Linked DNA regions of Homo sapiens. The protein of the gene in region 1 interacts with the protein of each later gene in a biochemical or structural test. Each region holds a gene or a part of one and is shown on either strand. Other genes may lie near its edges.

Region 1 (11,253 bases):
AGCTATACATGTACTAAAATGGGATGATGTTTCGATAGCCAGTTTGCTGCACTGAAGGATGTCTGAATTATCTCTTTAAATATCATTAGGACCTTATCTGATGTCCCTAATTTATTAGAGTTTAAATTTTTGAACTAATTTTAGATTCACAGGAAGGTATAAAGAAATATACAAGGAGGTCTCATTCACCCTTCACTGAGCCTCCCCTGATGTTAATGTTTTGCACTGCTATAGTAAAATATCAAAACCAGGAAGCTGACGTTGGTACAATCCTTAGAACTTATTCGGATTTCAGAAGACATAGGCACTCATATGTGAGTGTGTTTGTGTATAGCTGTATGCAACTATGCATACCTAAAATGGAAAAAATATATTAAAAATATCCCTTTAAATGGAGAGAACTAGCAAGAAAGTGAGGAAAATCCTCAGAGGCCCAAATCAAAAGCATGAGGCTAAAGAGAAAACCAAGCCCTGAGGCCAGCAGCTCCCAAAAGCCATCTGCCAAGCTCTGGTGGCTTGGTGACATGGTTTTAATAGGCCATGAGAAAGAGACCAAAAAAAAAAAAAAAGCCAATCTAAGTTACTTCATGTTATAAACTAAACAAAATCCTAATAAAAATGCCAACAGGATTTTTTGGAACTAGAAAAGGTGATTCTAATATTTATGCAGAAAACAGTAAAAATAAAGAGTAACAGATTTCTTAATTAAAAACATATACAGTCTTCCCTCAGATACTTGAGGCAGGGAGGTGGGGTGGGGTAGTTGGTTCTAGGACCTCCCCACATATACCCAAATCTGTGCATACTCAAGTCCCGCAGTGGGCCCCGTGGAATCTGCATTTAGAAGTCAGCCTGCCAAGTATGCAGTTTTCACGCATCCCAAGAATAGTGTATTTTCCATCTAGGTTTGGTGGAAAAAAATTTGTGTACAAGTTGATCCTCAGCGTTCAAACCCATGTTGTTGAAGGGTCAACTGCATTGTTATTTCTTCTCAACACTATTTGGGATGCCATATATCACAATTTACCAGCAATATCATCTGAAGAGTCTTCATCATGAGGTACAGTAGGCCTTTTACTTCTTTTGGCTTTCTCAGGTAAAGCTTTAGTTGGATCTTTCACCCGCATCTGTTATTTACTGAAGGGATTGAGGGAAAAAAATTCATACATTTTAGTCTTCAAAATTAAAATTTTATATTTTATTTAATGTGTATTAAAACTGAAATGACTTCAATTTCAACTGGTCCGGGAAATCAACAGAGGAAGAAGAGGGGAACATCACTTGAAATGAAATAAATCTTTGTTAAATCAGTATACACATGGTATATTCCATTGGCTTTTGCCAACTATACCATTATGGACTAAATGTTTGTGTCCCCACTCCAAATTGATATGTTGAACTCTAATCCCCAAAGTGATGATACTTGGAGGTGAAGCCTTTGAGAGGTAATTAGGTCATGTAGGTGGAGCCCTCATGAATGAGACTGGCCTCTTATAATAAGAGGCTAGAAAGCTACCTTTGTATCCACATGAGGATATACGAGAAGATGGCCATCTATAAACCAGGAAGAAGGCCCTCACCAGATACTAGATTTGCCAGCATCTTGACCCTGTACTTCCCAGCTCCCAGTATTGTGAGAAATAAGTCTGTGTTGTTTAAACCACCCAGTCTATAATAATTTGCTATACCAGGCTGAACCAAGACACAACCCCTAAATATATGATGTCCAGGTGAATGACCAAAACTAAAGTTTTCATCAACGGAGTAAGTATTGCTTCTGGATAATGAGTTCTCTTTACCCTTTCCTCCCTTCTGCTAGCAAGGAAATAGTAGGAGCTGGATGAGCCATACTGGATCAAAAATGGATAGCTGTAAGCCAAGCATAGTAAAGCCACTCTATACCTGTGTTGTACAACTAGCACTGGAATATTAAGAGAAAATTAAATTTCTATCTTTTTAAGCTACTACATTTTTGGGGGTTTTTCACTCTAGCTTTTTATCATGAAAAATTTTAAACATCTACAAAAGTTAAAAGAACAGTATAATGAACACTCATATACTAATTAGATTCCACATTTATATTATTATTACTATTATTATTATTATTATTATTTTGAGATGGATCTCGGCTCACTGCAACCTCCACGTCCTGGGTTCAAGCAATTCTCCTGCCTCAGCCTCCCAAGTAGCTGGGATTACAGGCGTGTGCCACCAGGCTTGGCTAATTTTTTTTGCATTTTTAGTAGAGATAGGGTTTCACTGTGTTAGTCAGAATGGTCTCGATCTCCTGACCTCGTGATCCGCCCACCTCAGTCTCCCAAAGTGCTGGGATTACAGGCGTGAGCCACCGTGCCCGGCTATTATTATTTTTTGAGACAAAGTCTCACTCTGATGGCCCAGGCTGGAGTGCAGTGGCCTGATTTCAGCTCACTGCAGCCTCAACCTCCCCAGGCTCAGGTGATACGCCCACCTCAGCCTCCCAAGTAGCTAGGACTACAGGTGCACACCACAATGCCCAGATAATTTTTTTGTATTTCTTAGTAGAGATGGGATTTCCCCATGTTGCCCAGGCTGGTCTCGAACTCCTGGGCTCAAGCAATCCACATGCCTTGGCTTCCCAAACTGCTGGGATTACAGGTATGAGCCATGGTGCCCCACCAATTCCACACCTATTAACAATTAGCTATGTTTGTTTTTATCTAAATATCAATATGTGTGTATAGAGAGACACATATATGTATGTGAGTGTGTGTATATATATATATATATATATATATATATATATATATATATACACATAGTTGAACTATTTGAAAGTTGTAGAGATCTTGACAGTTCATCCCTAAATACTTCAGCATGTATCTCTTAAAAATAAGCACATTCTCCTATATAACAATGTAATCATATCTAAGAAAATTAATAATTTTCTAATATCATCTCATATTCCATCATATTCTAATTTCCTTAGTTGACCCTAAATTGTCTTCTATAGCTGGTTTTTTGAAAAAGATTCAATCAAGGTTTGCACTTGATATTGGTTATGTCTCTTTAGTATCTTTTAATCTATTAACAGAACAGTTCTTCCAACCTGTTACTTGCCTAAGACTTTAGCTTTTTAAAGAGATCAGGCCAGTGCATGAGTCACCTTGAGGGTCTTGTTAAAATGAAAGTTCTGATGCAACAAGTCTGGCACAAGACCTGAGATTCTACCTACCTAAAAAGCTTCTAACTGAAGCCACTGCTGGGGGCCCATAGAATACTCTTTCGACAGCAAAGTTATATAATGTCTCACACTGAATTTGTCTCTTTCTTCATAGTGTTATTTACCTCTATCCCTTATATTTATTAAAAATTCAGTTAATTATCAAAGATTTTAGATACAAGCTAAGCATTTTTTAAAACTACTATATTTTGGAGTCTCTGTTAGAGTAGCTTGGCCTACCTTTTACTCTCCTGCCTGGTGGCTAAGCAACATCGCAATTTTCATGGTTGCTGACTTACTTCTCAATGATCAAGGTAATGAATCTTTCAATTCAGTACTAAATTCCAAATCTTGATTTATTCATTCCATAATTCACAATAAGGGAGCTTTCAAGTTTACCATTAAGTCCAACGGTCATCACTACTGAACTAAGTTGCAATAAATTAAGGGCTTCCGGGTTAGGAACATGTAAAAAGCCTCTGAGTTCCTTGAGCACTTCATCTCTACCTTCTCCCTCCAAACTTCCTCATCTACTCTCCCCTACAGTTCCACCTTATAAAATCACTAATTTAAGTATCCCCTTCTCTGACAGCAACTTCCCAGTTCTTCCAACTTGCCTGATCAGCCACTCATATTTTCCTATAGTGTCCAGGCTGACAAGAGGCTGCATCTCAACAAGTCCTTCCATGACCCTTACAGCAGGGCAGGGAGAAGTGGAAATGGCAAATGGAGAGCTGCTTCCTAAAGCAAGTCACATGGCACATTTAACTTCAAGCAGACATGGAGAGGGGTTGCCCATGTACAAAGAGTGCAGCATTACATGTACCCAAAAATAGGTGAACCGGAATACTTGTGCAGAGCCTTAAGGACTACATCACCTCTCTCGCAGAACCCAATCCTAGATGAACCCAATTAACCATTTTCTCCATGTCGGGAGAAAGTCTCTTAAGAAAGCAGACTAGGTCCATTATTATTCACTTCACCTTCTGGTCAACTTACATACTATCCACAGAGCCATTTCAAATCTTCTTCACTTTCCTCAAACCTCTAACCCCTCCAACTCCCAACTAACTTACCAAAAACTGATCTAGTCTTTTATAAGGGAAAAGAGACATAAGCAGACGGCAAATTTGATCTTTCTAACCCCAAATTTGCAAACCTACCTCCATCAATTTAAATTTGATGTCCTGAAAAGAGATAGGTATAACTAATAAAGTACAGGGAAAATGGCCTATGAGAAACTGATTATATTTTCTCGCTGTGGTACAGATAAGCTCTTGATAAAGATGAGCATTAACACAGATAATGCTAGCAAAATAATAAACAAAACCAGGCATTTGACCTACATACTGTAAGCAACCTGTGCCTTTTTTCAAAAACACTGACTCAAAATTAACTTGGTAATGTAGAGGCAATTTCTGATGATTTTTCTGCCATATGTAATGTCTAAACAGACAGAATCATTTGGTACAGTAACCCAGAATTCGGCAATTATTTATCTGTAGTTTTCCAATTTCCATTTGAGGCAAAAGGGCAAAATTAAAAGTCCAATTATTAGAGCTTCCAATACTTTTTATCATCAAAATTGTGTCTGGGCACTGGAGACTGGGAAGGATGGGAGTGGGGTGAGGAATGAGAAATTGCTTAATGGACACAATGTACATTATTCAGGTGATGGTTACACTAAAAGCCCAGTACCACTAGGAAATATATCCTCGTAAAAAAACGGCACTTATATCCCTTACCTTTATACAAATTTACAAAACTGTGGCTGAGGATCTCCGTGATCTCCCCCACATTTAGAGCTTTGATAGGATGCACGGGACTCAACATATAGTTGAATTCATGGCTGACATTTATTACACAATGCAGTATGGATATAAAGGCTCATCATAATAGAAAAAGACACAAGCGGAGTCTGGAGGAATCACGTGTAGGCTCCTTATGCGGTCTCCCTCCCAAGAGGGGTCAAACAAAACACATCCTTCCTCCATCAGTGAAAATGCAGCAGTTTCCGCGCAGGGAAGCCCATTAAAGACTTGGTGTCCCGGATTTTTACAGAAGCTGGTAATTTCGGCATAAAACATACTGTTCAGCACAAACCCAAAAATCTAAGTTCCCAGATGCCAAACAAGCACCAACATTGCAAGCAGTCCTTTCTAAGGATAGCAGTCTTAAGGCCTGCTATGTTAACTCTTTTTAGCACAAATATGTTCTGGCCATTTTTCTCATGCGGTTTTCCAAACAATAAACTTTACAGTTTTCAAGTCACCATCACTTAACACTTGTCTTTTCTCTAAAGTAGGATGTGCAACTAAGTTGTTTAGAAAGCTTTGTTTTTAAACAGGCTATGCAAAAAGCCCATATCCTTAAGAAAAAAAAATCCTTTTTTCCTACTCTTGGGCAATTATTTATGGGGGTTGGAAAGAGAAGAAAAGGTCACTATCTCCTTTTATATACCAAGCTCAAAAAGATGAGCAGCACTTATGGTTTTGCTGTGTATCACGCTCAGTTCTAAGCACTTCACAAATATTAACCCACGCAACCCTCACAACCACCTTAGGAGATAAGTTGCTATTATTTTCCGCATTTTACACTTGAAACTGAGAAAGAGAAGTGAAGTGACTTGCAGAGGTCCCAAAGCCAGTAAGCGGTGGATGGAGATGCGGACCCAAGCAGTCCGGCCCCGGAGCTCCTAATACACGACGCTTCCAGAAAAGTCATTAGACAGGCTTCCTCCGGTCACCAACACACACACACCCCGAGGATGTGAAGAGAAATGCGCCGCGATGAGGCGGACGGAAAGGTGTGGGGCCGCCGCGCGCCCAGGTCACCAGGGGACTCGGGCCCCTCCCAGGCCAGCCCCGACGCCCAGGGCTTCTCCCGCAGCCGCATGGACCCGGAGCCGGCAGAGCGGCGCTCACACGGCCCTCGGTGACCGCCCGGCGCCCCCAGGGATCAGGAAGCCGAGTGGGGTGGGGAGCCTCTCTTCCAGCCTCGCCCACCCACAAGGGGGTCAAGGTCGCCGAAGCGAAGACCGAGAAACTGCGGCGACCATACCGCCGCTGCGACCAAAGCGCCGCGTTCTCAACTCACCCCGCCGGGCCGGGCCGCAGCGTCTACAACCTGGGGAGACTGCGCCTGCGCGCTCGTCCCGCTCCCGGCAGAGGTGGGGCCTCGTTCGCCCGCCCCCAGCCAGGACCGGGAGGGTTCCAGGCGGCGCGCCCGGGGCCCGGGAGCGCGGGGAGGGGTGAAAGGGCGGGGCCGGCTTGCGTGGCGCCTGCGTTCTGCGTGTCCGCAGAGCCCGGAGAGTCCCTGATAATCTAAGACTCATAGCCACCGACTAGCAATTTGTTAGGATCCTGGGCCAGCGTGCGCACCTCGGATGTTGCAGGAGTCCGGCTTAAGTCCCACTTGTTGCTGGGCACCTTCTGAAACAGCCTCCGATTTCCCTCCGTTACCCTCCTCTGAACTCTTTTTTTTTTTTTTTTTTTTTTGAGACGGAGTCTCGCTCTGTCGCCCAGGCTGCAGTGCAATGGCAAGATCTCGGCTCACTGCAACCTCCGCCTACCGGGTTCACGCCATTCTACTGCCTTAGCCTCCCGAGTAGCTGGGACTACAGGCGCCCGCCATCACGCCCGGCTAATTTTTTGTATTTTGTTTAGTAGAGACGGGGTTTCACCGTGTTAGCCAGGATGGTCTCGATCTCCTGACCTTGTGATCCGCCCGCCCCGGCCTCCCAAAGTGCTGGGATCACAGGCTTGAGCCACCGCGCCCGGCTCCGCCCCCACACCCCCGCCGCCCCCTGAACTCTTAAAGTCACATCTAACATTCGTCATATATTATTGTGGTTTTTCCCCCATTGCTGTTGTCTTACCTATCCTTCTCTCTTCCTAGCTAGATAGTACATTTCTTGAAATACACCTATACCTCCTCAAAGCCCGGTTATCTGTTGAAGTGGCCAGCACATTGCATGTTTAGTAAAAGTAGTTGGTTTGAAAATATTTTGTTTCAATCATGGATATTGCAAATGCCAACACTGGTTATGGATAGGTTCTAAAAGTCTCCTGATCTTTCACAACTCTTCAGCCAAGGGACAAATGTGGCTTTAAGGATAAGAGCATTGGCGTAGAAATCAGAAGATACGAGAGTTAAAATTGCAAACACTAAATTTTTCTTTAAAAACTCTTCTAACAGTATTTACATGTGGAGAACTTGGCAAAGAAGGTTGATATTTGCTTATATCGTACTTAACAAGGACCATTCATTTAACAAACATAATTGAGCACAGATATGCCAGTTGCTGTTACAGGTATAGAGGTACACTATCATTTTGGGGTTAGGATAATTTTTTTCCCTAGGGAAAAAGAAAATATTCCTCAAATAAGAAGAGGTCATGTGGTGTAATTTTGAAGGCAAAATTGTCTACTTCATAAATCAAAAGCTTTCATGTATTTTAACTTTGGATTTGACCTAGAACTTGGAAGAACAAGAACAAGCAAACTTGAGCAAATCTAAATAATTTGCATCTTAATTGTGTCACTGTAAAAGAGATTTTAAAAAATATATGTGGAAACCCAGTTTATGATTGATTTTTTAAAAGGGATTGAATTAGATTATGGAAATTTAGGTTCTTTTCTTCATAAGAAAAAAATTAGAAATTATCAAATACCATACAATACTTAAATTTTCTTGGAAACGACAAAATTCAAAGCTATCTTGATTTCCACTAGATAGACCCTTAGCATAACCAAAATCTCCAGAGATTTCATTCTTTGTTTCAAAACTTGGCATAAATTAAGGAAAATTCTCTAACACTATTTTATTTTATTTCTGATGTTCCTCATTTACCTTTTCACTTAATTGAATGTAAAATTTACTACTTGATGGATTATTCAAAGAAAGGAAATTATTTTTAAATATTACTCAGTAAGTATGTTTTAGTGCTATTACAATGACATTATAACAAAACATCAAATAAAAATATAGATTACCTTAAGATTACCTAACCATGTATTTTCCAAATAATGCTAAATATCTTAAATTTACCATCATGTTCTGTTTGGAAATATGGGGAATCTTTGTTAAGCTGTAGGCTATATATATTCCTCTTATATTTCTATCAAGTGTATTTTTTTCCTTTTTTTGTTTTTTTTTGAGACGGATTCTCTCTCTGTTGTCCAGGCTGGAGTGCAGTGGCATGGTCTCAGTTCACTGCAACCTCTGCCTCCTGGGTTCAAGCAATTCTCCTGCCTCAGCCTCCCTAGTAGCTGGGATTATAGGCACTTGCCACCACACATAGCTAATTTTTTTTTTTTTTTTGTATTTTAGTAGACAAGGTTTCACCATGTTGGCCAGGCTGGTCTTGAACTCCTGACCTCAAGCAATCCATCTGCCTTGGCCTCCCGAAGTTCTGGGATTAAAGGTGTGAGCCACCGAGCCCAGCTCCTTTTTATCAAACACCAAATTGAACCAGATATCAAGTATATATTTTTAAGATACACTCTTTATTTTAAAAGTAATACCTGCTGGTTTCTCATCTTCCCCTCCTTCCCACACTCCCATTTCCTCTTCTCTGCTTGCTGTTTTCTGATATATAGTTTTAGGCACTGTCTTTGTGCGTACACCAGGCATTTGTACCATGTTTTTATATGACTACCTTTATGCTAAAAGATAACACAGCTTAGATTACAGTCTACATTCTCTTCTATGACTTGAATTTTTCACTTCACAGTATATGTCAGACATATTTTCATATTAACCTATTTTTTTTTTTTTTTTTTTGAGACAGAGTCTTGCTCTGTCACCCAGGCTGGAGTACAGTGGCATGATCTCGGCTCACTGCAACCTCTGCCTCCCGGGTTCAAGCGATTCTCCTGCCTCAGCCTCCCGAGTAGCTGGGGCAACGGGCATGCGCTGCCACACTTGGCTAATTTTTGTATTTTTAGTAGAGACGGGGTTTCACCATGTTCACCAGGCTGGTCTTGAACTCCTGACCTCAGGTGATCTGCCTGCCTCGGCCTCCCAAAGTGCTGGGATTACAGGCGTGAGCCACCGTGCTGGGCCATATTAGCCTCACTTTTTTGAGCAGTTGCTTAAGTCTCTTGTGAATGAATGTTTTTATTTTTTCATCAGTTTCTTGTTAGTGTACACTTGTCTTTGCTTACTAACACAAGTATTCTCAGTAAATTGTTCACTGTGGAAATGCTGAGTCAACAGATGTTCATTTAAAGTTTTGATAAAAATTCTTTAAAAAAAAGAGAATCACATGAAAGGCCATACATTTCCTAATTTTTCATTTTATTAGTCTGTTATATGGGGACTTAAAGTTGATTTTAAAAGAAATGGGTGTGAAATGACTTTATTGGTCAAAAATAAAATAAAATAAAAAGAAAAGGGAAAAATCCCAAGTCTCTTAAAAATTGTCTTCCTTCTGCCGGGCGTGGTGGCTCACTTCTGTAATCCCAGCACTTTGGGAGGCTGAGGCGGGTGGATCACTTGAGGTCAGGAGTTCAAGACCAGCCTGGCCAACATGGTGAAAACTCGTCTCTACTAAAAATACAAAAATTAGCCAGGCTTGGTGGCTACTGGGGAGGCTGAGGCAGGAGAATCGCTTGAACCCGGGAGCCAGAGGTTGCAGTGAGCCGAGATCTTGTCACTGTACTCCAGCCTGGGCAACAGAGTGAGAATCTGCCTCAAAAAGAAAAAAAAAGAAGAAAAGAAAAGAAAAAAAAAAAAGAAAAAAAGTCTTCTTTCCAATAGCCTTTCACTAACACATGAGTAACAACAAAAAATTAAATTAGTTGTTTGAGAATTAATGATTCATATCAACTCAGCACTAGTAAATCTTTCTCAGAAAAGTGAAAACTATTTCTCCCTCTTTTATCAATTTTAAGTCTTGCTTAAATTATTCCTTAACAATGATGGAATAACTTGGACACAATGATCAAGATAACTAGGAACAATGATCAAGAACCTCTTTTGACAAGATCTTTTTGCTGCAAGGACTCTTAAATAAACTAAGTTTAGCAGTGTGCTATATATGGAAAGGCATATTTATCTCCTCAGAAAAAAAAGTCCTACATAAAAATATTTTTTAAATAATAATTAGTTATGAGCCCTAAAAGAATAATTGTTTAGTAATACTTCTCCTGCAAAAGCAGAAATCAGATTAAATATTATTCAGTGAGGCCAAGTATATTGTTTCCCTATCTTGTGTTCATACTACCTGTGATTTATGATGTATATTTAGAATGAGGATGCCACAGAGACTACATGAATCTACAGTATATAGTGATATCTTAGTTAAAAGTGAATCCACAAAATAAATTACACGGAGACTATGGTTAAGCTCCAAATTATTTGGAAAATAATTATAAATGATGTCATTGGTCTAGAAATCTGAAATGGTTTATAGCTTATTAAATTATTGATAACTGAAGAATTTAAAAGTAAATGCTTAATGAAATGATTCCTTGGACATACACTTTAATAATGCCATTTAAACATGAATATTTTAATTTTTTTTTTGAGATAGGGTCTCACTCAGTCACTCAGGCTGATCACAGTGCACTATAGCCTCATACTCCTGAGTTCGGGTGACTCTCCTGCCTTAGCCTGCTGGTAACTGGGACTACAGGTTGGAACCACAGCACCTGGTCAAATATTTTAATTTTTAACTGTAAATCTATTTGCAGTTAAATATAGCTTTTATTATGTTTGGGAACCAACCTGAGAATAAATAAAAAATAAGATAATGAGAAACTTTATGTGGTAGTTTTAATAATGACCTCCTGCCCCAAAGATGTTCATGTTCTACAAACCTGAAACTTGTGAATGTGTTACCTTAACTGGCAAAAGGGACTTCGAAGATGTGATTAAATTAAGTATCTTGAGATGAGAAGATTATCATGGATTATCTCTGTGGTCTGAATGTAAAGGTCCTTATAAAAGAGAGGCAGCAGAATCAGAGGAAGAGAAGGAGCTGTGATAACAGAAGCAGGAGTCAGAATCAGGGATTTGAAGCTCAAAGCTGTTGGCTTTGAAGATGG
Region 2 (8,757 bases), on another chromosome or scaffold:
TGCAGATATTCATGTGTGAATACATTTGAAAGACTATTTCCTCCTTTGTCCATTTCCTTTCAAGAATGCATGAGTATTTTTTAAATTTAACACTACTATTGTTAAGGATTATTTAAATTGTTTATTGTTTCTTTGTTACTAAAAACCCCAGAAAAATGTATTTTTAACTAAGAATTCAAATATGCGATGAAATATTTATACCACTACACTTATTATATGCTGTCTTAATACTCGTTGGTTCTCCTTTTTTATTATCATAGCAAAGAAATTGAAAGCACTAAAGGTGAATTGTCCATACAGCGAATGAAAGCATTATTTGAGAGCCAGCGGGCTCTAGATATTGAGCGAAAACTTTTTGCAAATGAAAGATGCCTCCAGCTTTCAGAAAGTGAAAATATGAAACTGAGAGCTAAACTAGATGAATTGAAACTAAAATATGAACCTGAAGGTATATATGTCTCATATATTTTTGTCTTTTAAATTATGAGTAACCTGAAATTATATCAAATTATTTTCTTACTGTAGTTTTATGCAACTCTATTACAAACTCATTTGTAGTTATATACCTATAGTTAATAAAGCAAATTTATTGTGTAAAATAGGTAGGAAAATTCAGGGAGAACTGGATACTGGGTGTGCCTGAATATAACATGTATCCTTTTTGGATATCTAATTTCATCATACTGTATAGTAGAAACTTGAGATTTGAGACTTTCCCATTTTAAGATTACAGTATTTTATGTCATACCTAATAGTTTAATTATGTTGAAGCAGCTGATGTTTGGAAGCTATACGAGGTAGGACTGTTTATAGAAAATCTAAAGTAATGGAGACTTTAAAAAGGTGGGTCTTTATCTCTGCCTCTGATGGAAGTCTGGAGGAGGCCTTCCAGGACTGGGAAAGCACTCCACGGTATCAAGATTCAGGCTTCTTGTGTTTGTTGGTCTGCTGCCATCCTGTGGAGCAGAATTTAGTCATGCAGCCTCACCTGCTGACAGGAAGGGCTGAGAAATGCAGTCTTGATTCTCAGGGGCCATGTTCCTAACTAAATATTGGGAATTCTTTTATTAAGGAAGAACAGTGAGCCAGGCGTGGTGGCTCGTGCCTGTAATCCCAGCTCTTGGGGAGGCAGAGGGAGGAGGATAGCTGTGCCCAGGAATTTGAGATTTGCTTGGGCAATATAGCAAGACCCCATTCTCCACCAAAATGGGGGGGAAAGGAAAGAACAATGAAACATATTAGGGAATATCTAGCAAGTCTAATGACTGAGCTGGAAAGTAGCCTAACCATACAGTCTCTGCATCTTATATACTACAGAGAGTGAAGTTTACTGTATGTAAATTCAAAAACAAAAGGCCAAGTGTGAAGGAGTCTAAGAATGTGATGGTTCTACAACACCCCTTCCCTAAAAGAGTGTTACATGTTTTAGGTTAAGGATTCTCAACAAGTTTTTGTCCCCGCACTCTGCACATGCCTCAGTCTCTCTTCGTATTGTCTCAGTGAACTGCTATGATTCTCAACAATAGTGGGGAGGTTGCCAAAAATAGGAAGGTTTTTACACAATTTTAAAAGGCTTCTCTTGCTCTTAACTCTTTTTGTTTCTTCCATGATTCTAATAGGCTCCCCTGATTAAGAATTATCCATTATGAATTTCAAACATCTGTTGAACTGAACACAGCAAATAGACAGGAGGCAGGGTAGTGAATCCTGATAATGTGGGTTTCAAAGGAGCAGTGCCAGAAAAAGGGGAAATCATGGTCTAAAAGCAACAATGTAGAGCAAAAACAGCAACCCCTTGTGCTACCAGTGTTCCTCAGACTCCACTAACATTTTGATTTTGAAAATGAAACACATCGATAATGGGCATAGGGAAAAGATATTAGAGCAGTTAATTCAGTGGCTGTGTTTATGACCTGTTTAGATAGAATGATATTAGGCCATGAGGATAGAAGGCATTGCAGTAGTCTTTGATGAGACATGATAGGATTGGACTAGGGAAGTATCCATCATAAAAGTAGTCTGATTCTGCTTATATTTTGTAGGTAGAGCTAACAGGCATATATTACCAATATTCAGAAAGTTTGGCCTATTCTTGTCATTTAATCCTTCTAATACACAATACCAAGTGAAGTGGGTGCTTTTAATCCCCATTTTACAGATAAAATGAAGCTCAGAGAGGTTAAATAATTCCCCAAAGACATGGCTGTCACATACGAGGATTAGGATTCGAACCTGGACTCTGCCGCTGTCTCTTCATCTCCACACTGAGATCTTATGAACCACCTTTTTCAAAACACCAAGAGAGAACAGTGAAGCATTCATGCCTAAAGTCAAAATATTGAATTCCCAAGGAAAAATATATAGCCAAATAAACTTTAAAATATATAGTTTATATAGATTCCATGATAAAGAATAAAAGGTAGAAACAAAGGATGCATTTCAGTGAGGAGATGGTTGCATTTTAAAAGAATGGAAAAAGGTATACATATAACTAGTTCTGGCTTCTTGTGTTGATTGTGTCTTTGTTTTCTTAGATTTTTTCTTTTCCCCACTCGTTTTTATTCTCAGAGACAGTTGAAGTGCCTGTACTGAAAAAGAGGCGTGAGGTGCTCCCTGTGGATATAACCACCGCTAAAGATGCATGTGTCAACAACAGTGCTCTCGGGGGAGAAGTTTATCGATTACCGCCTCAGAAAGAGGAGACACAGTCCTGCCCTAACAGTTTAGAAGATAACAACTTGCAATTAGAAAAATCAGTTTCTATATACACACCAGTAGTCAGTCTCTCTCCTCACAAAAATCTGCCCGTGGATATGCAGCTGAAGAAGGAAAAGAAATGTGTGAAACTCATAGGAGTTCCCGCTGACGCTGAGGCCTTAAGTGAAAGAAGTGGAAACACCCCTAACTCTCCCAGGTCAGTGTCCTCTTTTCCTCCAGGCAGCCAGCAGACCTCTCCATCTCTCCTCTCTCGCTGCATGAACTGTGCTGTCTGTTTCTTTATCTACTTTCTTACAATTGCATGCAGTATAATTCCTCAGTTTCATCTACCTACCTTCAACTTTTCCAGAACTTTAAGAAAGACTAAACTGATTGCAAAGGGAAAGGACTCTTGAATAAGGCAATCACATTAAAAAGTTACACGTTTCTGTTTCATGAAAGGGAATATCACAGTTTAACACATCTCTGAATGTTTTATCAGTTTGAATACATGTACTGTTATTTTTCTCCTGGTTCAAGCATGGCCATGAAAGAAAAATTAACTTACTTTCTCAAAGGGCTTTCCAGTAGTCTAAGAAATTTCAGCCTTCTAGGAAACTTAGGTGAATTTTTTATGTCTTTTGAATTGCTTATCCTAGGCATTCAAAAATGGGCTTCAATACTTATTTTGACATTTTTACATATCAAAGCTAACTCATTTTCATTGTTTCCAAAACTTGAAAGCCTCTAGTTTCTGCATAATTGAGTTTGTGACTAAAAGAAATAGCGTCAGATATGTGTGTCTGAAGGAATTAATGTCCCAAGGGCTTTGTCTTAATAAAAATAATTGAGGTCAGAAGGTAAGAGAAAGTGAATGGAAGGGAAAGGTAAGTAGCAGTGGCTGAGGCTCGAGTTCTGGATGTGCGCAGCAGGAGAAGTGAATGAGGAAATTGAAGAAAGTAAAAGAAAGATGAAGGATGTCTGCATGCAATGGGATTGTTAGAGGCATTTAAAACAAATATCTAGACATTCAAAAAGATGTGCCAATAACTAGCCTAGATTATCTCCTATGAAATGAGATGTTGAAGGTGCTACTAGGGCTACCTTAGTCTTAGAGAGTGGAGACAGATTAATAAGACATTTTACTAATGTGCATTTGAGTAGAGAGAGTAAGACAGCCCTGTTTAAAAGGGCTTATATGTTTTATCTGATTTCTCTCCAAGTCTTCAGTGCTACTAAATGTAATATTCAACAGTAAAAGCACTTTAACAATGTTAGCTGCTATTATTATAAGGCATAGTAATTTTATTACTCCCTCCTTGGATTTTTATAGAATGTTATAACCTCTGAGTCACATAAAATAAAAGCTTACCATTCTTAAGGAAAAAGTAACTTCAAATGAGTATCTGCCACATACCCATGGTTTCAAAGAGTTCTGAAATGAATCCAGCAGATTATGCCTGTTTATATGTGATGCATTGTATAAACATCCTTGACCAGTGTATATTTCTGGAGGTGGATTTCCAGAATTGATAAGTGCCAGCCTTGCTATCTGTATTGTCTTCATTCCTTTTTCTGCCTTTTTTTGCTTGATAAAAAATCACTTAAGCAAATGTATGTGGCTAATTGACTCAAGTAGCACGTTGGAAACTTTTTGTCTTGTTCGTTAAACAAAAAATAAAATACCACAAAACATTTGTGTGTGTGTGTGTGTGTGTGAGTCCATCTGCTAACTTAAAATGTTTCCGACTCTTTGTTTTCTGCCTGTTTAACTTAGATACACAATCCTAAGATAATTTTGGAACAATAAATATGGCTTTTATTGGGAACTTCACTATTGCATGCTTTACAAAACTAATTGGTGTTCTTGTTACCGAGAATCTTTACAGGCCTTTAAGAATCTCTCTACTGTTTATCTTTTCTTTATTCTACTAGTTGAAACTCAATTTTTTAATATGAAACAAATAGACATCTATTCATGCAGCCCAAGATTCCATGTTATTTTTGTCTTGCCTTTTGTATGTCATGTTAACATTAAAATATTGCTGTAACATTTCAGTTTTTGTGTTAGGTGTGCTTATCATGATAGGTGCCCTGTCATATTTTCTTTAATTTAGGGCTTGCCATGACTTTTTAAAGATATTCTTTAGACTTAAAAAATAATTGGCCCAGCGTGGTGCCTCACACCTGTAATCCCGGCACTTTGGGAGGCTGAGGCAGGTGGATCACGAGGTCAAGAGATCAAGACCATCCTGACCAACGTGGTGAAACCCTGTCTCTACTAAAAATACGAAAATTAGCTGCATGTGGGGGTGCGCACCTATAGTCCCAGCTACTCCGGTGGCTGAGGCAGGAGAATCGCTTGAACCCGGGAGGCGGAGGTTGCAGTGAGCCGAGATCATGCCACTGCGCTCCAGCCTGGTGACAGAGTGAGACTCTGTCTCAAAAAGTAATAATAACAATAATTGAGCCTATTGATATAAAAAGACTTTTAGACAGCCAGTGACTTAATATTCTTACAGTATTAGAGTCAACTATATTTTTTTTCCTTGAATACCATGCCTTATTGGAGGCCCATTATACTGGGGGTTTGTTTCTTCAATCCTTCATAACCACATTTGAATTCAGAGTGGATGCTTTAATGCCTGTAGGTTAGCTGCTGAATCAAAGCTTCAAACAGAAGTTAAAGAAGGAAAAGAAACTTCAAGCAAATTGGAAAAAGAAACTTGTAAGAAATTACACCCTATTCTATATGTGTCTTCTAAATCTACTCCAGAGACCCAGTGCCCTCAACAGTAAAGACTTGTCTTTAATAAGAGTACGGTGCCACTTGCCTCAAAAGTTACTATGGTGCTTAAGATTGTCTTGATCTGACATATATCACCTTCTGGGTTATTTACTCATTGTGCCAGGACCTGGCATTTTCATGTGCCTTTGACCAAGTGTTCAGAATTTGCTTGACTCTAACCTGGAGAGCTTCTTAAGTGATGCCCCTTCATGGAGCTTCTATGACAGTGAATAAACTATTAATTGAAGGAAAATGTTATAATTAATGTATCTATTTGCTGCATTGTATATGGATTAAATGATAAAAAACAAGTAATCTACCCTCAGAGCCATGTATTTGAGAATGCTTCAATCATATTTTCCTATGTACTTTTTTTTATAAACTTAGTTTTAGACTATGTTGTAAAAATGGGAAGGTTGTAAACTATGTTGTAAAAATAGGAAATGTGGCTTAAAATATATACATTATATTGTTTCAGGATTTTGTCAGTGTTTAAAGAACCAATGTTCATCTTTGTATTTATATACATGATTTAAATTTTGTCTAAAATTTTAAATAAAACTGCAGTGATTTATCCTTAAATTTCTTACTCTCTATAGGTAACAGGATGTTATCAAAAGGGAGTAAAAAGCACTTTGGGAGGCTGAGGCGGGTGGATCGCTTGAGCCCAGGAATTCGAGACCAGCCTGGGCTACATGGCAAAACCCCATATCTACAAAAAAATACAAAAAATTAGCTGGGCATGATGGTGCACACCTGTAGTCCCAGCTACTCTGGAGGCTGAGGTGATAGGATCATCTGAGCCCAGTAAGGAGGTCGAGGCTGTAGTTGAGCTGTGATCATACTACTGCACTCCAGCCTGGGCAACACAGCAAGACCCTGTCTCAAAAAAAAGTGGGGGAAATAAATAAGAGGAAAAAAGAAACCTCAGGAATTCTTAATTCCCTTATGTATAATTTTATATATAATTTTATGGTTAATTATATGTACATATACAGATGGTCTCTGACATAACAATGGTTTGACTTAATGATTTTTCGACTTTTCAGTGGTACAAAGACAGTATGCATTCAGTAGAAACTGTACTTCAAGTACCCATATGACCATTCTGTTTCTCACTTTCAGTACAGTACTCAATAAATCACATAAGATATTCAACACTTTATGACAAAATAGACTTTGTGTTAGATGATTTTGCCCAGTAGTAAACCAATGTAAGTTTTCTGAGCACATTTAAGGCAGGCTAGGCTGAGCTATAATGTTCATTAGGTTAGGTGTATTAAATGCATTTTTGACTTAATATTTTCAACTTATGGGTATATCGAATTGTAACCCCGTTGTAGGTCAAGGAGCATCTGCATATATACATACATAGATGATAGATAGATAGATAGATAGATAGATAGATAGATAGATTTAATTCTAAACTTTCCAAATACTCTTTCATTTAAATGATTATAGTTTTACAACAATTTCATATATTCTATAGGTAGGAGAATTAGGGTTTTCCAGAGAAATAGAACCAATAGGATGTGTGTGTATATAAAGATTTACTTTCAAGAATTGGTTCACATGGTTGTGGGGGCAAGTCCAAACTTGTAGGGTGGGCCAGCAGACTGGAGACCAGGGAAGGGAAGAGCTGATGAGTTCAAGTCCGAAAGCCATCACACTAAAGACCCAGGGAGATAACTGCCACTGCAGTTCAAGTTCAAAGGCTGTCTGCATCAGAATTTCCCTTTGCTGGGGTAGGTGAGTCTTTCCATCTAGGACTTCAATTCATTGGATGAAACCCATTCACATTAGAGAAGGCAATCTGCTTTAAGTCCACTGATTTAAATGCTGATCTCACCCAAAAACATCCTCACAGAAACGTTCAGAATAACACTATAAAGCAATTAGACCTAAAGAAATATGTAGCATACTCCACCCAAAGGAGAATACACCTTCTTAAGTGTACACAGAACATTGTGCAAAACAGACCAATGTTATGCCACAAATCTGGTCTCAATAAATTTTAAAAGTTGAAAAAGTATCTCGACTACAATGGAATGAAATTAAAAATCAACAACAAGAAAATCTGGAGAATTCACAAATACTATGTAGAAATAAAACAATACACTCTTTAAACAGCAGATGAATCAAAGAAGAAATCACTAGGGAAATATTTTGAAGATGAATTTTAAAATATTTTAAAATGAGTGAAAATGAAAACACAACAATAACAAAACTTGTTAAGTGTAGCGAAAGCAAAAGCCCTCAGTGGGGAATTTATATTTGGAGATGCCTACATTTTAAAAAAGAAAGCTCTCAAACTAATAACCTAACTTTATACTTTGAGGAACTAAAACAAGAAGAGAAAACTAAAAAGCTAAATCCACGGCCAGCAGAAGGAAGAAAATAAGAGATGAGAACAAAAACAAATGAAATTGAGAACACGAAAACAATGGAATCTATGGAACCTAAAGTTTGTTCTTTGAAAAAATCAAAATTAATAAACTTTTAGCTAGACTGATCAAGGAAAAAGGAGAAAAGACTCAAATTACTAAAATAAGGAATGGAAGTAGGGACAATACTGTCAATCTTATAGAAGTAAAAGGGGTTATGAGAGAACGCTATAAACAATTACAAATTATGTATACTAGATGACATAGTCAAATTCCTAGAATCAAACTACGAAAACTTATTCAAGAAGAAATAAAAAAAAAACTCAATAGAGCTTTAAAAGAGGGAATCAAATCAGTAATCAAAAAAACTTTCAAAAAGAAAAGCTCAGGACCAGATGGTTGCACTAGTGAACTCTACCAAATACTTAAAAAAGAGCTTATCTTTCTAAAACTAGTATGTCTCAATCTCTTCCAAAACATCAAAGGAGATTATTTCCTAACTAATTCTATGAGGAAAGTATTGTCCTAATTCCAAAGCCAAAGACATCAGAAGAAAACTACAAACCAATATCCCTTATGAATATAAATGCAAAAAATCTATAAAAAAAATACTAGCAAATTCAATCCAGCAGCATACTGAATTATACACCATGACCAAGTGGGATTTGTCCCAGGAATGCAACGGTAAATTAAAACAGGAAAACCAATGTAATATACTGTATTAGTTTCTGGTGAAATGAATTACCACACATTGAATGGCTTAAAACAATAAAAATGTACTGTTTTATAGTTCTGGAGGCTAGAAGTCTGAAATCAAGTTGTTGGCATGGTCTTGCTCCCACTGAAGGCAATAGAGAAGAAATATTTCCCTACTTTTGGTGGCTCCCA
Region 3 (11,524 bases), on another chromosome or scaffold:
GCTGGTCTGTTCGCCCCAAATCCCGCTCCTTAGCTTCTCTTTCCTGTGGGTGACCTGGACACTCTTCTGGGCTGGGGAACTAGACCGTAGGATCTGGTGCCCAAACAGGCCCAAGAGGACCAGCTCAGGTGCTGGGAAAGAGCTGGGCTTCAAGGGGCTGGATGGAGGCGGTCAGCTTACTCAGTGCCTCTTGTATGCATGCACGCTGGAAAAAGTCTGCAATCCCCTCCTTGGAGTCAGAGGGGGAGGCCGGGTGAGTCACTGGGCGTGTAGCTGCCGTGACCAGCCGCATACTGCCTTGTAGAATGCCTGCTCTGGAGCCCGGCCCCACCCTGGGCTCTGCCTTTGCGCTGGGAGTTTCTGCAGACTGCCTCACCCCACCTACCAGTCCAACCTCTGCCTCCTGCGGCCGCCACTCCACAGCGGTCACTACGGGGAAGAGGGAGAGGGCCCAAGGCCCAAGGGCGTGGGGGTGAGATCCCCAGGGCTGGGCTGGAGTTGCCACTCTGCTCCTGACCCAGGGGCTGATCCCAGTCAAGTTACTACCTGGGTGTAAGCCTCAGTTTCCTCAAATGCAGAAGAGGATGGATAGGAATTCAAGAGATCCTTCGAAGTTGAGAGCGAAGGAAATCCCAGAATTTTCAAGGGATTCAGAGAAGTAGGGGACTAGGTTGGCTGAGGGCAGGAGGAGGGTCAGCCTGGAGGGGTTGTCAGAGTCTCAGGGTGGGTGACTCATGACTAATGGACCCTGGCCTGGGGCAACACTCTCGGGGTGGCCCAGGACCCCCTAGGCTCCATGGAGCACATGACATCAGGGCCACCTTGGAGTCAGCGTCCCAGGGCTTCCTGGCCCGCCTGGCTGTAGTAAGTAGCTGACTGCCCCACCTCTGCAGGGAAGAGATGAAACAAGACCTTGCAAGGATGCTACAAGGCGACCACAGTGTCAGCACAGCGAGGGACCTTGAGGTCCAGTCCTGGTGCTTGCCTCACTGATGAGGACAGGAGGGTAGGAGGGTCCAGGGAACTTGTGCCCGGCCACATAGCCCAGAGGAGCCCACTGCCCACGGTGGGTCCAGAGCTGGAAAGTGGGGCCAGGAAGGGGGGGATGGGGGAGGAGATGCTGGGCTGGGTCTGCCCCTCCCACCCACACCCGTCTGGGCAAGACCAGGGCCCTCCGCCTGTGGCACTTACCTTGTTCCTGTTGCCGGGATGGGCCTCCCAGGAGCAGTTTCCAGCCATCTCCAGGCCTGGCGCGTCTGGGCCCCTGCTGGCAGCTCACCAGTCTGCACACCCACCTGGCAGAAGCCCAGAGAGAGGGTGGATGAGGACAGCAGGGACCCCTCCCCTTCCTGGACCCCCGTGCCTAGGCCCCCAAGGCCTGTGGCTCTCAGCCATCACCTTAGAGGAAAGGCAATCACCCCACACCCTCAGCAGCAGGGGCATTGTGGGACTGTCCTGGTGAGATTCTGGAGGTCACCCCTGGGGCACGGCCCCCTCCTGCCTGTGGACTCCGCGTCAGCCCCACCGCAGCTCACTGGAAAAGAAGCCCTCTCCTTTCCCTTTTCTTGTGAGAGTTCTGGAGCCAGGCTGCTTTTGCAGACATACATTTACTTCCCCACACACATTTTTGGGGCACTTCCTTTGTGCCCTGCCTGGTGTGGGGACAGGGGTTTCCCAGCAATCGGTCCCAGAAGGAGGAGCAGGGGAAGAGGGATCATTCCTGGCAGGGGGAACCTGCTGGAGGAGGAGGGCTTTGGCTGAGCCGCGGTTTGTAACATGCTAAGGCATCTGGCCTTTCCCCTACATGTGCCTGGGAGGCAGGACAGCCCGGTCATCAGCATCACTGTCACCACCACTTACCCTGCCAGCCCGCCTACACCCATCATCTGGTTTGGTCCTCATGACCAGCTATGGGCCAGGTATCCTCATGCCCCTTTGATGGGCGCTCCTGGGCTTAGAGGGTGAGGTCACCTGCCCAAAGGCACACCCATAGCCACACCATGCCCTGCAGCCTTGCAGATTTGTGTTTCGAGCAGCTGCCGTAGGGAGGGACTGCTGGCATAGAGAGGGGAAGCTGCACCCACCCTAGGGCTGCCAATGGGAGGCCTGGGGTAGGGGGTGACCCTGCTGGAGGCTGGTCCACCTTGGCCGGCCAGACCTCATGGGTCTGCCTGCCTTGGGTCCTCTGGAATTGATCCCGGTCCCCCAACCTGAGCTTCACCCCTTGGAGGAAGCTTCTCCCCGTGAAGCCCTGTGCCCCTTCCCCGCAGAGAAGCATCTATTATTATTCCCTGCTGTACTGGGGGGGTAAACTGAGGCTGTGAGCGGAGAAGGGCCTTGCTGGGCACAGCCCAGGTCGCAGGCTGCCGGGCCCCTCCTCTCCCAAGGGGAGAGCTGGGCATCCTGCTCAGCTCAACTCCCCGGAAATTCTTTCCTCTGCGCCGCGCGGGTCCGCCCGGCCTCAGCCAGCCACGTGCCCCCGCCCGCCGCGCACTCCTCCCGCCCGGGGGCGGGCCGTACTCCTGGCCTCCGCGCCCACCATTGGCTAGAAGAGGTGGCCGTCTGCGCGTGTGGCCCGCCCCCTCTTTAACCCTGGGCCTCCCGGAGCTGGTGGCGCAAGTGTGGCCCCAGGGGCCGCTCCCAGGACCCTTCCCACCCAGTGGCCTGGCTCCCCTCGGCCCCGCGCTGCCAGACCGCGCCGCTCTGCGCCTTCAAAGGGCGTTTGTGAGCACCTGTGCCTGGCCTACGGCTGACTCAGCCTGGGGTCTTCGGGGTGTCCCAGGGTGGGGGCACCTTGTGTGCCGGAGTGAGCCAGTGCATTGTGATGTGTGTGCAGTGGGCTTGCAGATGGCTGGTGCTGCGACCTGTATCTTAAGTCTCCCTCCTTGGACTCCAGTTGGGCCATTGTCCCGTTGCCACAGACAGGCCGTAACTTCTCCACGCTCTGGGGCCTGTCTGAGCTTTCCTGCCCTGCAACCCCAGACCTATCACCTGCCCTCATCCTTCCGGGCGCCTGGTAAGAGCCCCCCAAGCTCTCTCCATTGCCCCTACTCTTTTTGGTGGCCCTTCTGGACACCCACCACCCCTAGGTCTGGGCCCCCAGCCTTGTTTCCAGAGATGTCCTGACTCACAGGAGCCTCATCCATTCACCCTGGCCAGGCTAGACCCCAGCCACACCAACTAGTGCCCCAAAGGCAGTGGGCTGGGCTCCCCCCTACGCTGCAGGTGGGCATGCAGTGGGGGCCCCCAGCTCCCCTCTCTACCATCTGCGTCCCTCCATTATGTGGGTGTCCCTGTGCATTTGTCCTTGTCCTGCCAGGGACAACCTGAAAAGCGATTTCACGCATGCACAGAAAGATCTAGAAGCCAGCAGACCCCAGATGGGCCATATTAAAGGACATGTGTGTGACACGTGGATGGGGCGTGCGTGTCAGTACATGTGTATGTGTGTTCCTCTGGGTGGGATCTGGGCTGCTATGACAGAACTAGTTTCCACTGAAGCTGACCCAAAAAGCTGCCAGCACAGCTCACACCTGACCCTCCCCTCGGAGCAAGCCCAAGGGTGGCCTGGCCACCTGTCAGCCTCCTGCAGCCTTGCCCGCAGGAAGCTCCTCCTCTCCCTTCACTCCATCCCACCATGACCCAGCCCCGACGCCGCTGGGGCTGTCCCAGCCCCTCTCCTTAGCCGCTTGTGCCGCCATCAGAGGGGCCTGTCTCGCTCCCCCAGACACAGAGCCTCTGTTTTCCTCACTCCGGGTCTGGAGTCCCCTGCTTAACAGCTTGGATTGAAGAGGCTTGTCTGGGGGGACTGAGACCTTGCAGATCATTCCAGGAGCCGCCTCCATCCAAGGCCAACAGCTTCATCAGGCCGCAGGCCTGGGAGAAGGTGGGACTGCAGTTGCCCAACATCCTGTGGCTGCCCACACGGACACCCCATGTGCACCCCAGGGCTGAGAGCAGGGGGAGCCATCTCCCTGTGTGTGGGACACTGCCTGCTGGGTGTTCCGTTCCAGCCCCTCTAGAATGCATGCTTGAATGGCCAGTGAGGCTGGGGGAGGGACCGAGAGGGAGCCCTCACCCCCAGCAGCACAGAGCAGGAGCTGGACGGTGGGGCTGGGGGTGAGGCCAGCTGAGAGGGGTCAGGTCCTGCCACGGGAGGGGGACTTTTAAAGTTCCTCCATGGCCCTGGAACCCTGGAGCCTCAGGAGTGGCAGGGGAGCTTCTCCGGTGAGTGACAGCCTCTCTGGGGTCTCAGGGCTCCCTGCCTGGGGCCTTAGGATTTCTGGGAGCTGCCTGCCCCGACAGCGTCCACCTCTCTGCCCCTACAGTGCCCGCGTCATTTTCCTTCCCTGCCTGGCCCTCACCCTGCAGCCCCGGTTGTTGGAACACCCTCCCCTGGACCCTGGGCCCCTGGAGCTACCTGCAGCTGTCCTGATCCGCCGAGGCCTCCTTTTGTGGAGGGCTCTTCCTGTGACTCCCGCCTCCGGCCGGCGGACCCGCCGGGGCAGCAGGCCAGCGCCGAGCGCGGCCCGGAGCCTTGGAAAATAGGAGCTCAGAGTAGAGCCCTCTCCTGCTGGAAGAGATGGCTTTGGAAGCAGAACCCGCCCCAAACCCAATTCCTGGCCCGGCAGGAGGGGGAGGGGGAGGGGAGTAGGAGGAGGGGCTGAGCAGGGCTGAGCGGGGATGAGGCTTCAGGAAGGAATGCCCCGCTCAGGAGCCCCCCCCAGAGCCCCACCGGGAACTCATCTCTCCGCCTGGTGACGTCACGTTGGCCCGAGCACTGCAGCCCGAGTCCAGCTGTTCATCTCCCTCACATTCTGCTGCTCGGCAGGGCTGCCCAGGAGAGGGAGCACCGGCTGTACACTTGCCTGGCGTCTTTGGTCTGCCCCCAGTGGGCATTTCGGGGCAGGCTGGCCCAGGAGGGGCTAGTCCCCACCCCGTTGTTTTAATTTACTCAGGGGCTGATACAGAGCAGTGGGGGGCAGCAGGGCGAGGGCTCCATGGAGGGGCAGTGCAGAACTGGCAGAGGTGGTCAGCACCGCCCAAGCGGCACCCCTCCCCCTTCCCACCCCGGACTCGGCCTGGGCCCCCTGGGGGCTTATGGAACCAGGAATTCCCTTTTCCCCAGCCCTAATAGCAATCAGATGGCGCAAGTGGAAAATCACGGCGCTCGGCAAGCAAGCTGGAAATTGGCGGGCTGTGGTGCCTGGTGCCTGCGCTGCTCAGCGGGAGGATGAGTCAGGTCCCCCTTCCCCATTGAGCCCCTGGAGGCGGGCGGTGGGGGGGGGTCCTGGAACGCGTTCATGCCTGGGGCACTGAGCATTGGTAGGGGTGGGGGTGCAGAGTCGGGGGTGCGGGAGCCAGCAGGGTGGCCAGGAGGAGGGGGTGATGAGAAGGCTCCCCTCCTACCCTGGGCCAACTTTCTCAGGGTCCAGGAAGCCCGAGGGAATTCTGAACTTTCCCTGCAGGAGTGTAGTGCCCAGACTGGGAGAGATGTGCCTCTGTGGGCATCTTGAAGGGAAATGAGAAGCGGAGCTGCCCCTGCACCTGCGCTGGGAGCTGCCTGCCTCCTGCTTGTCCTGGCCATGTGCGAACCTCAGCGTGGAAGAGGGACTCTCGCACTGCTCCCTGCGCGGCTCAGCTGGCCTCCTGGGGTCCGTTTTTCAGGGATGGGGTGAGGAGGGACTCTGGGATCCTGGAGGCTCACGGGCCATGCCTGAGGCTGAGAGAGAGGCTGGAGGCAGCAGGCAGGGTGGTGACCCGTCCCCTCCTCTCCAGGGCAGCCAGCTGGGGCCCAGCTGGAACGCTTGTTTACATGGGGAGGCCGGGGGAGGCTGAATCCCGGCGAGTTCCAAGTGTAATTGCGTTTGGACACTTAAAAGGAATTGTGTGAAGTGGGCAGAGGCTCTGAAGTCCACCGCCTTATTTGGTATGGAAATCTGTTTCTCTCAAAATAAGCGAGAGGCGCTTGTAAACGGGAAGGTCGTCCTGGCCTGAGTTTGTGGAGTCCCCTTCCCGTGGGCTTGGTGTGTCCGGCTGCTCTGTTGCAGTACCGCAGACCAGGGGCTTATCGGAGCAGGCGTTTGTTTCCCATGGCTCCGGGGGCTGGAAGGCCAAGATCAAGGCCTCCACAGATTCAGCGTCTGGTGAGGACCCAGCCTCTCACTGAGTCCCCATGTGGTGACCCCTTTCAGGCAGGCGAAGGAGCTCAATGGGGCCTCTTTTACTCGGGCATTAATGCCATTATGAGGCCCCACCCTCATAACCTGCTCATCTCCCAAACACCCCACCTCACACAGGAGATTAGATGTCAACACATGAATTCAGGGCAGTGGGGCAGCAGGGCAGGGGGTGGGGCCACAAACATGCAGTCTGTAGCAGCCACCCTGGGGGTCTCTCCCCACCCCCTGGGGGAGTGGTGGGCTGTGTGTGTGGGGTGGTGCCCAGAGGCCCAGTGCAAGGAGTTCCTGTGCTGCCTCCAGGCTTGGGTGACCGTGGACAGTTTCCTTCCCACTGGGGACCTTGGTTTCCTCAGCTGTCAGATGGGAAAAGATAATGACCCACAGGGTTATAGCAAGGAGGGATTGGATGCCGGGAGGAGCCGGGAGAAAGAGCTCTTCATGCACCTCAGCAACGCCGCTCCCTGCTCCAGGTGTCCCGCTGGTGCCAGGCCCTCCCTGCAAGGCTCAGGGCTCTGGCTGATGCTGAGAATGGGGCATGGTCCCTGCTCGTCCAGCCTTCACTTTCTAAACAGCCACCACTTGCCGTCAGGAGTCCTCCCCTGCCCCTCCCAGTAGAACTTTGTTTTTAATCATCCCTTGCCAAGGGCCTCATGGTCCTACGCCTCTCCCCATGTCCCCTCCTGAGGGTGCAGGCCTGGACCCTCCTCTGTTGGGGGGATCCTTGGGGGAAGGAGGTCGGTTCTGGACAGAGATGTCTCCCTGCCAGGTGCTTCTGTGGCCTATGGTTGCCCTGCTGCTCCCTGGACGAGGGGGTGGGTGTGGACCAGCCCTCGTGGCCCCTCTGCAGCCAGCACCATCCTCAGTAAAGACTACAGGTATTTCCTGAGCACCTGCAGGGTGCCAGGCACTGTGCTCTGTGCTGATGAATAGGACAGGCAAGGTCCCTGCTCTCCGGGAGCTGATGTCCAACAGAGAGGCAGACCAGGTCAAAGGAAACACAGTAAAATGCACCTGCGATGAAGAAGGTGTGCAGGGCCATTCGGCTGGTGTGGTGGCTCACGCCTGTAATCCTAGCACTTTGGGAGGCTGAGGCAGGTGGATTGACTGAGCTCAGGCGTTCCAGACCAGCCTGGCCAACATCGTGAAACTCCATTTATACTAAAAATACAAAAAATTAGCTGGGCATGGTGGCACACACCTGTAGTCCCAGCTACTTGGGAGGCTGAGACATAAGAATCACTTGAACCCAGGAGGTGGAGGTTGCAGTGAGCTGAGATCACGCCACTGCAGCACCCCAGCCTGGGTGAGACAGCGAGACTCTGTCTAAAGAAAAAAGGTTGAACCAAGGCCTAGCTGTCTTTCCTAATAGTGAAAGGGACCCCTCTCCTTCTGCTCTGTTCCCCTCCTCCACTAGGCTGGGCCTTTCTGTGCTGGAAGGTGCATCTTGGGAATCTCAGCAAAAGTCCACATTATCCTCTGTCCTGCATGTGGTAGACCATTCATTTGTTAATTTGTCCATCTTTCCATCTATCCACTTACTCATCTACCCACTCAACTACCCATCTACTTGCTCATCCATCCATCCATCCATCCATCCTCCCATCCATCCATCCACCCACCAGACCATCCATCCATCCATCCATTCACCCACCAAACCATCTATCCATCCATCCATCCAAGTACAAGACCATCCATCCATCCATCCATCCATCCACCCACCAAACCATCCATCCATCCATCCATCCATCCACCCACCCACCAGACCGTCCATCCATCCATCTATCCATCCATCCATCCATCCATCCATCCATCCATCCATCCACCAAACCATCCATCCACCCACCAAACCATCTATCCATCCATCTATCCATCCATCCATCCATCCATCCATCCATCCATCCATCCATCCACCAAACCATCCATCCACCCACCCACCAGACCATCCATCCATCCATCTATCCATCCATCCATCCATCCATCCATCCATCCATCCATCCATCCACCAAACCATCCATCCATCCATCCATCCATCCATCCATCCATCATCCATCCATCCACCCACCCATCCATCCATCAATCCGTCTATCCATCCATTCATCTATCAATCCATCCATTCATCCATCTAGCCATCCACCCACCCACTCACCCATCCACCCATCCATTCATTCTTACCTTAATTCAACACATTTGTACTGAACACCAGCAATGTTGGTGCTAGGAAAAGAATTGTGGAAGAACCAGACATGGGGCATGGGGAGCAGGTGATAAATAGAAAAAACTGAACATAAGAACTCCAACCTGTGATTAGTGCATTGAGAAAACCAAACAGGCATAGTGACAGAAACTTAGGTGGTAGGCAGGGAGGGATGGGAGGTGAGCTGAATAATGGCCCCTAAAGATGTTGATGTCCTAATCCCCAGATCCTGAGAACATGTGACTTTGCACCTGGCCAAAGGGACTTTGCAGTTGGGATGGAGTGAAGGGTCTTGAGATGGGAGCATCATTGTGGATTATCCAGGTGGGCCCTATGTCATTGCAAGGGTCCTTGTAAGAAGGAGACAGGAGATCAGAATGAGTAGTGGGCCATGTGTTGATGTGAGGAAGGGGCCACCAGCCAAAGAATGCAGGCTGCCTCTAGAAACTGGAGAGGACAAGGAAACAAGCTGTCCCCTAGAGCCTCCAGAAGGAACCAGCCCTGCCAACACCTTGACTTTAGGCCTCTGATTTCTGGAACTCTTACTAGAATACGTTTGTGTTGTTTAAGCCACTAAGTTTGTGTCATTTGTTACAGAAGCCACAAGAAACTAATCCATGGGGATGGCCAGGCCTGATTAGCTGGGGTGGGGCTGGAGGCTCCTCTACAGAGATGATGCTTACACTGAGACCTGAAGGAGAAGGAGGAGGTGGCTGCTCACGCAACCCACAGGAAAGTGTTCCAGGATCAAGAACAGCAGGTGCAAAGGCCCCGTGATGGAAAGGATTGGTGCACTAGGAGAACAAAGTGGGTGGCTGCAGGGCAGGAGGGGAGGGTGCATGTGCAGGCTGGGCAGGAGGGTAGGGCCTTGAGGCACCCTACAGGCCCCTGTAAGTCCAGGCACAGAGCTGCTGCCTTGAGCCCTGAGGTCTGGACATTCCAGTTTCCCATCTTTCCAATGTGGGACTCTCTGCCTTTTCCAATTCCCCACTTCCCTGATGCCAGATACTGCCTGACTGTGTCCATCTCTCCCCCGTCCCCTGGGCCACCTCCCTGCTGAGACCCCTCACTGGTGCCTCCCAGGTGCATTCTCCTCGCTGCCCCCAGCAGAGTCCTTCCCACACACCCAGCTCCTCGGTGTGGTGCCTGCCCGTGGGTGGGTGGTGCACCCCACTGGCATCCCTCCTCTGCCCTGTCCACCTCAACTTCCAGGGCAGCCTGGACACCAGGTTTGGTCTACCTCGTCCACACCCGCCTGCTTCTGTCCCGCCTTAAGCGGATCCGTGATGTCCCGTCATTAGACCTTCAATTTCAGCACAGGACTGAATAACTAACCTTCAAAAAGTTTGCAGTAGCCTTGTCACTCCTAAAAATAACAAATAATTCCTTAAACATCATTCAACATCCAATCAGTGTTTGCACACTTTTTTTACAGCTCTGCATGTGTGTCACAAGCTAAACAAGGCCCGTGAGTGGATGTGCTTCTTTTTGGGGTTGGGGAGAGACGGTGTCTCACTCTGTTGCCCAGGCTGGATTGCAGTGGCAAGATCTTGGCTCATTGTGTCTCCCGGGTTCAAGCGATTCTTCTGCCTCAGACTCTTGAGTAGCTGGGACTACAGGCAGTGCCACCACGCCTGGCTAATATTTGTATTTTTAGTGGAGACGGGGTTTCACCATGTTGGTGAGGCTGGTCTCAAACTCTTGACCTCATGTGATCCCCCGACCTCGGCCTCTCAAAGTGCTGGGATTACAGGTGTGAGACACCGTGCCCTGCCTGATGTGCTCCTTTTAATGACAGGTTCCCCGCAGCATCTCCCTGTCCCTCTTCCTCAGTCTCTCTCCTTCCTGCCCTCCTCCTCCCCCGGCCCTGACTTGGGTCAAGAAACAGACACATCACACTATCAGGGAAATAGGGGTTCACACGTGGCGTGGGCAGGTCTGAGGCGTGCGAGTCTGGAAAGCTGTAGTCAGAGAATCAGAGGAACGCTCACTGGGACTTTGGCCAGCCCCTGTGTGGGTACTGGAGCTGGAAGAGCTTGGGAAGCTGCCCCGTGTGGCCGCCACAAGCCTGAAGGAAGAGCTCGTGGGGAGGTCTGTGAAGCCACTGCATCTGGGCGCCATGGCCTCCTGGGAATCACGGGTCCCAACTGACTCACCTTCCAAACCTCACCACGAGCCCTTCTCATTGAGAAACTCTGACCCAGCATCTGTCATGGAAGGGACTCGGGGAACAGTTTCCAGCCATAGGAGGAGGTCATGGGACTGAGAGGCCGTCCAGGTCCAGCACACTCCAACTGTCAATTTGCCATGCGGATACTCTTTTAACGAGACTTAACCTTTTAGTGGGGAGGTGCAAGGAGTTTATTTTAGGGGGTGACCCCAAGAAACATTACAGGGAAGGAAAAGAGTTCTGAGAATTCTCTCCCACTTTGCTTTGAGGGGTCCTGTCTTCAGCTTACCACTGCCCTTGCCTTCTCTGTGGATTATTATGGCAACAGACACTTGCAAACCCTAGGTAGGTCCTCAGCGAGGGTGGCTTGAGCAGCCAGAGACAGGCTGAGAGCAGCTGCCAGGATGGCTGTCGGACCCTCAGGGGCCTGGCGGGAAGCTCACTCCTGCTTTGGGGCAGCAAGAGAGAGGGAAACAGGAGTTGAAGTTGCACTGAACACTGAGGTCACGTGCGGGCTTTCCTTCTGGGCCTGCCACTGGTACGCAAACAAAACTCAAATATGTCTTCAAACCCAATCAAACTTCGTCACAGTTTCCCCTGAGACTGGTGCAAAACTAGTACAAAACTCTTGCTTTCTCAAGTCTGAGAGATCTGGGGTCTTCTGTTTGGGAGAGACCATGTTTCCTATAAACTTTTTATCAGAAGCAGCTATTTCCAGACAAAACTTCTGAATGTTCAGCCTCGAACGCATCTCTTGAATCTGGAATTTCCCCAAGGCTTGATTCCATGGGATGGCTGAACAGATAACACTGACTGGGGGATGGGTGTAGGTGTGTTGGTGTGTATATTTCAAGTCACTTTTGCTTCTTTAAAAATATTTAATTCCAGGAACATTTTTTAAAATTGTGATAAATTGTGCATAGTATGAAATTTATCTTTAGCAATTTATATATTTTTTTGTTTAGCTAGAGTCTAGTT

What was found.
Region 2: of the proteins of USP45 (region 1) and SPDL1, one has a biochemical effect on the other in vitro, tested with the Homo sapiens proteins (one study listed by BioGRID).
Region 3: the proteins of USP45 (region 1) and MRGPRF form a complex in vitro, tested with the Homo sapiens proteins (one study listed by BioGRID).

What each region holds. Positions count from the first base shown.
Region 1 is NC_000006.12:99,509,094-99,520,346, forward strand, and holds the start of USP45 (ubiquitin carboxyl-terminal hydrolase 45), read right to left. Parts: upstream 6,331-11,253; 5' UTR 6,299-6,330; exon of another isoform or gene 4,948-6,298; intron 1,138-4,947; 5' UTR 1,128-1,137; coding exon 1,028-1,127; intron 1-1,027. UniProt on the Homo sapiens protein: Catalyzes the deubiquitination of SPDL1. Plays a role in the repair of UV-induced DNA damage via deubiquitination of ERCC1, promoting its recruitment to DNA damage sites. May be involved in the maintenance of photoreceptor function.
Region 2 is NC_000005.10:169,598,712-169,607,468, forward strand, and holds the end of SPDL1 (protein Spindly), read left to right. Parts: intron 1-260; coding exon 261-448; intron 449-2,568; coding exon 2,569-2,914; coding exon of another isoform or gene 2,915-3,113; exon of another isoform or gene 3,114-5,348; coding exon 5,349-5,496; 3' UTR 5,497-6,067; downstream 6,068-8,757. UniProt on the Homo sapiens protein: Required for the localization of dynein and dynactin to the mitotic kintochore.
Region 3 is NC_000011.10:69,008,663-69,020,186, forward strand, and holds the start of MRGPRF (mas-related G-protein coupled receptor member F), read right to left. Parts: upstream 4,585-11,524; 5' UTR 4,421-4,584; intron 3,887-4,420; exon of another isoform or gene 3,692-3,886; intron 2,670-3,691; exon of another isoform or gene 1,861-2,669; intron 1,307-1,860; exon of another isoform or gene 1,296-1,306; 5' UTR 1,240-1,295; coding exon 1,192-1,239; intron 1-1,191. UniProt on the Homo sapiens protein: Orphan receptor. May bind to a neuropeptide and may regulate nociceptor function and/or development, including the sensation or modulation of pain.